Regions from separate parts of the Homo sapiens genome. Here region 2 is linked to region 1. The links come from fine-mapping of genetic effects on gene expression. A gene starts in region 1. The other region holds a variant in brackets. All regions are shown on one strand. Distances are between the middles of the regions.

Region 1 (4,388 bases):
CAAGTAATTCTCCTGCCTCAGCCTCCCAAGTAGCTGGGATTACATGCACCCGCCACCACACCTGGCTAATTTTTGTACTTTTAGTAAAGACGGGATTTTGTCATGTTGGCCAGGCTGGTCTTGAACTCCTGACCTCAGGTGATTTGCCTGCTTCGGCCTCCAAAAGCGCTGGGATTACAGGCGTGAGCCACCGTGCCCAGCCTGCTACTTCTTAAAAGTTTACAGTAATAGACAATGCTGAGGCACCCTGGGACAGTAATGCCACCGAATACCAAACTAGGACATTTTTGAGACTGAAAGGGGACAAGATCTGTAAACCTAGATTACCCTAGAGAGGTGACGTTGCTTGCTTTAATACTTTGGTTGCCTTATTAATTTTTCAAAAATTGCATCCTATTTTTTTGGTTTTCAAAATAAGAAAGACATACTTGAATAAAGTTATTTCCTCTTCAAAGTCTTTCTAGATTCCACTTTTCCCCATGCTGAGTTAAATGCCTTTCTCTTTGGTTCTGGGGCAGTGGTTCTCAATGCTAGGGGGTGGGGTAAAGCTGGAATTTTGGTCCTTTCTCCCCTAAGGGACATTTGGCAATGTTTAGAGACATTTTGGGATGCCTAGGTCAGAAGGAATGCCACCGGCATCTAGTGCGTAGAGGCCTGGGATACAGCTAAACATCCTACATTGCATAGGAAAGCCTACACAGCAAAGAATGATCAGGCCCCAAAACTTAATGGCGCCAAAGTTGAGAACCCCTGCTGTATGGTATGTTTGTCATAGCACTTCATAAAGACAGCTGTAGGCCGGGCACGGTGATTCACACCTGTAATCCCAGCATTTTGAGAGGCCAAGGTGGGTGGATCACCTGAGGTCGGGAGTTCGAGACCAGCCTGACCAACATGGAGAAACCACGTCTCTACTAAAAATACAAAATTAGCCGGGTATAGTGGTGCATGCCTGTAATCCCAGCTACTCGGGAGGCTGAGGCAGGAGAATCGCTTGAACCCGGGAGGCACAGGTTGCAGTGAGCCAAGATAGCACCATTGCACTCCAGCCTGAGCCACAAGAGCGAAACTCCGTCTAAAACAAAAACAAAAACAAAAAAAGGCCAGGAGCGGTGGCTCACTCTTGTAATCCCAACACTTTGGAAAGCCAAGGCGGGCAGATCACCTGAGGTTAGGAGTTCAAGACCAGCCTGACCAATATGGAGAAACCCTGTCTCTACTAAAAATACTAAATTAGCTGGGCGTGGTGGCACATGCCTGTAATCCTAGCTACTCGGGAGGCTGAGGCAGGAGGATGGCTTCAATCCGGGAGGCTGAGGTTGCCGTGAGCCGATATCGCGCCATTGCACTCTAGCCGGGGCAACAAAAGCAACACTCCGTATCAAAAAAAAAAAAAAAAAAAAAAAAATCTGTAATTGTCAACTGATTGACCTACCCAGCTAGACTGCAACTTTCATAAAGACAAGTGATACATGCATGTTGTAGAGTGTTTGGCTTGCAGTTGAAACTTAATAAGGATTGGAGGAAAGTGAGAAGACACATCCAGATTCAAATTTAGGGACCTGTGGGATCATGCTGTTTGGGTTTTTTTTGAGCCATTTCCCACCTCCCTTTGGGTACTAATCAGTCAACTGATAAGCATTTCATTCATTCAACTATCTATCTTATCTATCGATCATTATCATCTATTTATTTGTTTTTGAGACAGGGTCTCTCTTTGTCGCCCAGGCTGGAGTGCAGTGGCACAGTCACGGCTCACTGCAGCCTTGACCTTCCGGGCCCAAGTGATTCTCCTGCCTCAGCCTCCAGAGTAGCTCGGACCACAGGCGCTCGCCACCATCCCCGGCTAATGCTTTTGTCTTTTGTAAAGGCGGGGTCTTGCCATGTTGCCCAGGCTGGTCTTGAATTCCTGGGCTCAAGCGATCCTCCCGCCTTGGCCTTCCAAAGTGCTGGGATTACAGGAGTAACCCACCGGGCCCGGCTGGAAGCCTAATTTATACTTTTTTAAAGATCATGCTGGCTTCTCTGGGAGAATATGTAAAACATCTATTATACACAGAATCTAAAATACTTGCCATAAAGTAGTTACACTCTCGGATACCTATTGTCAAAAGGGAAGTCTCCCAGAAAATATGGGGGCGCTGTAGCCGCCGGGTCAGCCGAGTCCACTCTCTGGTACTTTTAGAGACGTCGGTCGCTTCCGGGAGAGTCCGCGTCTCCCGCACCTTCCTCTCTATCAAACGCCGTCTCTGTGGTAGCCGGGGCCCCGCCCCTCCTCGGACTCTACCCAGTACTGAACTAGGGGCAGCTGGGCTCCAGAGTCCCTCGGGTCTCAGGTCATGGCGGTCGCGGGGCCCGCGCCCGGAGCTGGCGCCAGGTAAGCAGGGCGGTCGGGGAGGAGGTTTGGGAGCAGGAGTTCCGGGCTGTAGGGAATGGGCTTTCCTGCCCTCCGTGCCTCGTCCGCCGCCCTGGCGCCCCCGTCTCGCCCCCGTGACTTCTGAGAGAAAGAGGAGCTCTCGAAGGGGCGTCCGCCCTCCCGCCGCTCTAGGCCGCTCCGCACCGGCCGCGGCCCCCTCCGTTCTTGGCCGGACTTGTGCCATCTCCTGCGGTGTGGGACCCTCACCCTCGCAACTGGCATTCTTTTTTTGAAAAGAAGAACCTCAGGTGCACAAAATTGAGTTGATCCTTCTCAGTTCTTGACACCCTGTGGGCCAATGCAAGGCTCCTTGTTTATTTTATCACTTCCTCTCTTCGTTCCTATTCCCAGACCCCTTTCACTCCCCTTTTCAGACAGCCACTCTGGTGTGTTATATAAGTGGCTTTACGGTCCACCTTGGGTAAATTTGTGCAAGTGTTACTTTGAAATCTATATAGCGGTTTCGAATTCTTCAATATAATATGCTGTGATTTTTCTTTAAACCTTTTTCCTCAACATTGTGTTTTTGAGTCCATCCATGCTAGTCATCTTGTTTTCACTTCTGAGTGCTTGCATGAGGGGTGCTGTGTGCATAGACTTATTCCCCTAGTGGTGGATAGATTTTTTTCTAGTATTAACACCCCCACAAGCCACACTGTAACGAATATTCTGGCAGTTGTCTCCTTGTGCATATTGTTGCATTTCTCTGGGTATCCACCCCAGAGTTGGGTCCTGGTCATATCTAATTTTGCTGGATTGTTCTTTGGAATGGTCACACTAGTTTATACTTCCCGACGGGCAGTGCATAAAGCTTCCTGTTTCCCGGTATCCCTCCATCGTTCAGTGGCGGCTGGTTTTGTAATGTTTATCAGTCTGGGGGGTGTAAGGTGGTATCCCATCGTGTACATTTTCTTTCTTTCTTTCTTTCTTTCTTTTGAGACGGAGTTTTGCTCTTGTTGCTCGGGCAGGAATGCAGTGGCATGATCTCGGCTCACTGCAACCTCCGCCTCGGGTTCAAGCGATTCTTCTGCCTCAGCCTCCTGAGTAGCTGGGATTACAGACGCGCGCCACCACACCCAGCTAATTTTTTGTATTTTTAGCAAAGATGGGGGGGTTGGCCAGTCTGGTCTTGAACTCCTGACCTCAGGTGATCCACCCGCCTCGGCCTCCCGAAGTGCAGGGATTACACTTCCCGACGGGCAGTGCATAAAGGAATTACAGACGTGAGCCACTGCTCCCGGCCTACATTTTCATGTGTTTATTAAACGTGGGTTTTCCCTTTTTTGAATTGCCTGTTTATATCCCTTCCCACTTCTCTGTGGATTTCCTATGTTCCTGGCTTGCAGGAATTCTTGTAGGCTCTAGATTTAGATCCTGGCCATGCCCGGTGGCTCACACCTGTCATCCTATCACTTTGGGAGGCTGAGGTAGGTGGACCACTGGAGTCCAGGAGTTCAAGATCAGCCTGGGCAACATGGTGAAACCCCATCTCTACCAAAAATACAAAAATTAGCTGAGCGTGTTGACGCACGCCCGTACTCCCAGCCACTAAAAAGGCTGAGGTGGGACAGTCGCTTGAACCCGGGAGGCAGAGGTTGCCCTGAGCTGAGATCGCACCACTGCATTCCAGCCTGGGCAACAGAGCAAGACCTTGTCTCAAAAAAAAAAAAAAAAAGATTTTAGGCCAGGCGCGGTGGCTCACGCCTGTAATCCCAGCACTTTGGGAGGCCGAGGCAGGTGGATCACCGGAGGTCAGGAGTTCGAGACCAGCCTGACCAATATGATGAAACCCCGTCTCCTACTAAAAATACAAAAATTAGCCGGGCGTGGTGGCATGCACCTGTAATTGCAGCTTGTCAGGAGGCTGACACAGGAGAATCACTTGAACCAGGGAGGCGGAGGTTGCAGTGATCCGAGATTGCGCCGTTGCATTCCAGCCTGGGCAACGAGCAAAACTCCGTCTCAAAAAAAT
Region 2 (4,388 bases), 28 kb after region 1:
AAAGACAGAAAGCATCCCACTGCAGGCTGGACATGGTGGCTCACGCCTGTAATCCCAGCACTTTGGGAGGCCAAGGCGGGTGGATCACTTGAGGTTAGCAGTTTGAGACCAGCCTGACCAACATGGTGAAATCCCATCTACTAAAAATACAAAACTAGGCGTGGTGGTGCATGCCTGTAATTGTAGCTACTTGAGAGGCTGAGGCAGGAGAATCACTTGAACCTGGGAGGCAGAAGTTGCAGTGAGCCGAGATTGCACGACTGCACTCTAGCCTGGGCAACAAGAGTGGAACTCCATCTCAAAAAAAAAAAAAAAGCATCCTACTGCTTTAAGAACAGTCCTGGCCCGGTGTGGTGGCTCACGCCTGTACTCCCAGCATTCTGGGAGGCCGAGGCAGGTGGATCACAAGGTCAGGAGATCGAGACCATTCTGACCAACATGGTGAAACCCCGTCTGTACTAAAATCACAAAAATTAGCTAGGCATGGTGGCGTGTGCCTGTAATTCTAGCTACTCAGAAGGCTGAGGCAGGAGAATTGCTTGAACCCAGGAGGCGGAGGTTGCAGTGAGCTGGGATCACGCCACTGCACACCAGCCTGGGCAACAGAGCAAGACTCTGTCTCGGAAAAAAAAAAAAAAAAAAAAAAGCAGTCCCAGCCCAAGAACTCTGCCCCCAGCAAGTCTTCTCAGTCTGCAGCCCACCAAATGAGTGCTCCGAGCTTACTCTCTGCTCCTGTCCAACACCGCTCGTCCCAGGGTGGCCCAGCCCCAGGCCCCTCCCCACACATTCCCGCACACCCACCCCAGTCCTCTTCATCCTCTTACTCTACCCCAGTGGCCTCTAGGTGCTTGAACTGGGCAAGAAGAAGTCAGGCCTAGCACTCCAGGTACCAAGCCAGCATGGTAAGCTGAATGTAGCCACCAACAGCCTCTGGCAGGGAAAGTCTTGAGGCTGACAGAATTCTCCAGGCACTGGTCCAGACAGGAGCCCAGAATGAGGAGATGGCGCTGGGACAGGTGAGTGAGCAGTGGAGTCAGAGGCCTGGCCTTTCCTCCCATGCTACCCTCCTGTGGCACCCCTGCAGGGGTCTAGGCTCCCGTGTCTGCCCTTGCCCACTTCTATACCCCAAACTCCAGCCCCACTCTAGCTGTCCTGGCAGCAGCAGACCTGGTCGTCAAACATGGGGCTAGCAAGGAGCCTCAGGCATAGGGAGCTCTCAATAAATGTCTGACCAGCCGGGCGCAGTGGCTCATGCCTGTAATTCCAGCACTTTGGGAGGCTGAGGCAGGCAAATCACCTGAGGTCGGGAGTTCGGGAGGTGGAGATTGTGGTGAGCCGAGATCTCGCCATTGCACTCCAGCCTGGGCAACAAAAGCAAAACTCCGTCTCAAAAAAAAAAAAAACAAAATGGTCTGACCGGCTCCCCCAAGGCAGGCCTAGAGAGTCTGGGGGAGGCCCTCCCCATCTAGGGACACATGGATCACCCTTGCCCTTCTGCTCAGGAGGTACCCCAGGGCCTCTCCCTGACGCCAGTCCTCCCAGCCCAGGGTGTCTTCTCACACACTGCTCACTCTGTCTGCCCACATTCTTCCTGTAATTTTTTTTTTTTTT[G/TG]ATACAGAGTCTCACTCTATTATTCAGGCTGGAGTGCAGTGGCATGATCTTGGCTCACTGCAACATCCACCTCCCGGGTTCATGCGATTCTCTCACCTCAGCCTCCCAAGTAGCTGGGATTACAGGCAGGCGCCACCACACCCAGCTAATTTTTGTGTTTTTAGTAGAGATGGGGTTTCGCTATGTTGGCCAGGCTGGTCTTGAACTCCTCACCTCAAGTGATCCGCTCACCTCGGCCTCCCAAAGTGCTGGGATTACAGGTGTGAGCCACTGCGCCCAGCCAGTCTGTCCACATTCTTGACATCTGTCCCTACTCGCTAGCCAAACCGCAGCTTCCAGAGAAGAGTGGGCCTGGCCCCCAGCTTTGCCAGGGGTGGTCAGGTGGGTGAGCACTTTCCATTCCTAGCATAGCCACAGAGTACACTCCTCCTACCATCTGTCTCCCCCTTCCAGTGGAAAAGATGGTGCTGTCCCAGGGGACCTGGCACCATGCCACCAAGCTCAACCACAGCCCTCTCTGCACCCCACCAGGCAGATAGAACCACCAGAGGAGTCTGGTTTCCCTTTAGTTACAGACGGGGGTGGCCATCATCACACCCCTCTAATCCTGATGTACCACGGCCAGGGAGCCACATGCAGCCAGTGGCCTCACAGGGCTATGGTTAACTCTGGACACACATCCACTATGCAGTCACGGACTAATATAGGCAGAAGCCCAGAATGCTCTCTGGCTGATAGCTCTGCCTTCTGTTACTCAGCACTCAGTTGGAAGTATGCTAAGTCATCAGCATGCTTCCACTTCACCCAGTCTCCTGGGAGGATCAAAACCAAATCCTACTGTCTATTGCAGCATCTGGCTTTAGCCTAGGTTTTCTGGAATAACTATACCCCCCACCCCCACTGTAAGTTGATTGTGTTTGAAATCTAGACTGCTACTGCTATACCCCTAGCACTTAGAAGAGTAGACAGTCTAGTGTCCATGTTGATAAATCGTTGGTTAGGGTTCTAGCACATGCTGCCTTTATTAAAAACTGTCCCAAACCCATTTACAAAAGCAGTAGCTAGTGCAAGGGTGTGTGGCTTATAGTGGGGGGCAGGCTGGACTTGAAACTAGAGAAAGCCTAATTCTTGCTTATTTCAAAGGTTCATTCCAGGGGTGTGAGTGAGGTATTAGCTACATGTGCTTGGGGACATCAAAGTACCCTGGACCCCTCCAGTCAGAGAAAAGGGGTCTGGGAAGTCTTTCATGCCAGGATATTCAAAATGCATCTGTGGCCGGGCACAGTGGCTCATGCCTGTAATCCCAGCACTTTGGGAGGCTAAGACAGGAGGATTGCTTGAGGCCAAGAGTTCAAGACTAGTCTGGGCAACATATTGAGCTACAAAAAATTTAAATATTTTTCTTTTCCTACAAAAAATTTTAAAATTAGCTGGGTGTGGTGGCACACACCTGTAGTCCCAGCTACTTGGCAGGGCTGAGGTGAGAGGATCACTTGAGCCTGGGAGGTTGAGGCTGCAGTAAGCCTCATCCCACCACTGCACTACAGCCTGAGCAGTACAAGAGACTGTCTCAAAAAAATAGTAACATTTTAAAAAATTTAAAAAGAATAATAAAGTGCACCTGTAAGCACTATACAGTGTGTTTTCCCAACTCTGTCCCCTGAGAAGGCCTAGAAGCAACTGTACCACAATAACAGTAAGCATACCTTGTGCCTAGATTTTGGTACCTAAATACCATTCTCCACTAAAAAGCCAGACAAGAGGAACCAACAGATGTTAAAAGTAGTGGATTAAAGTTTGATGAGGAATAAGATATTTATATAGTCTCAAAGCATCATCCCACAAAATACTTGTTAATAAGTACATGATACTCATTAACTTTACAATGGAAAAACCTGCAGGTACTATCTTTTTTTGTTTTGGTTTTGGTTTTGAGACAGGGTTTCACTCCCATTGCCCAGGTTAGAGTGCAATGACACAATCTTGGCTCACTGCAACCTCCCCCTCCTGGGCTCAAGCGATTCTCCTGCCTCAGCCTCCCGAGAAGCTGGGACTACAGGCACACATCACTGCACCCAGCTAATTTTTGTATTTTTTGTAGAGACAGAGTTTTGCCATGTTGCCCAGGCTGGTCTTGAATTCTCGAGCTCAAGCCATATGCCCCTCCTTGGCCTCCCAAAGTCCTGGGATCACAGGCACATGAGCCACTGCACCTGGCTAGCAGGTACCATCTTAATCGAATGATAAACATTAACATCACCAGGAATGGAACAACATGGTGTGCTTCCTGATATGATGCACTGAGAATGGAGAACCAGTTCCATGGAATTTTCTCCAAAAATGCAGATTCAGGTATGCAACCTGAGTCTTATGAGGAAATATCAAAACCCAAATTGAGGACATTCTATAAAGTAACTGGCCAGAAATCATCAAGAACGTCAAGGTCACAGAAGGCAGTTATGGATTGGAGGAGACTACAGAGACTGGGTCACTCAATTCAGCGTGCAGTCCTGGATCAGATCACAGTTGATAAAGGACGTTTTTGGAATGATCAGGGTTCTGTGGACTAGTTGATAGTATTTAACACCCTTCTGGACAAATCAATGTCAATTTCTTGATTTTGTTAGTCGTATTTGGTTGTGTGGGAGAGTATCCTCATTTTAAGGAAATATACACAGAAGTATTAAGTGGTAATGGGGTATCATGTCCCCAACTTACTATCAAATGGTTTAGAAAAAAATGCAAAAATAGGCCAGGCAAGCGGGGGTTATGCCTGT

Alleles and levels. Alleles are on the strand shown, and positions count from the first base shown. SD is a standard deviation of normalised expression in the study named.
For the expression in monocytes after R848 of the gene that starts at base 2,318 in region 1, TG is the high allele of the variant in region 2 and G is the other (small effect, 0.34 SD a copy in Quach 2016).

The links. PIP is the estimated chance that this variant, and not a neighbour inherited with it, causes the effect.
Region 2: its variant is the best candidate, but not a certain one, in a credible set for the expression of ABCD4 in monocytes after R848 (Quach 2016, PIP 0.64).

The regions. Positions count from the first base shown.
Region 1 is chr14:74,300,864-74,305,251 of GRCh38, reverse strand. It overlaps ABCD4 (ATP binding cassette subfamily D member 4), which reads left to right and starts at 2,318. Exons shown (of 19, transcript NM_005050.4): 1 at 2,318-2,377. The coding sequence starts at 2,340. It also overlaps a transcript of VRTN not described here. RefSeq lists an enhancer at 1,870-2,229 and a silencer at 2,490-2,569.
Region 2 is chr14:74,273,327-74,277,714 of GRCh38, reverse strand. No RefSeq gene overlaps it. Among named protein-coding and RNA genes, the nearest start is that of ABCD4, 27 kb to the left of the region's middle. The variant G/TG (reference allele first, on the strand shown) is at 1,612.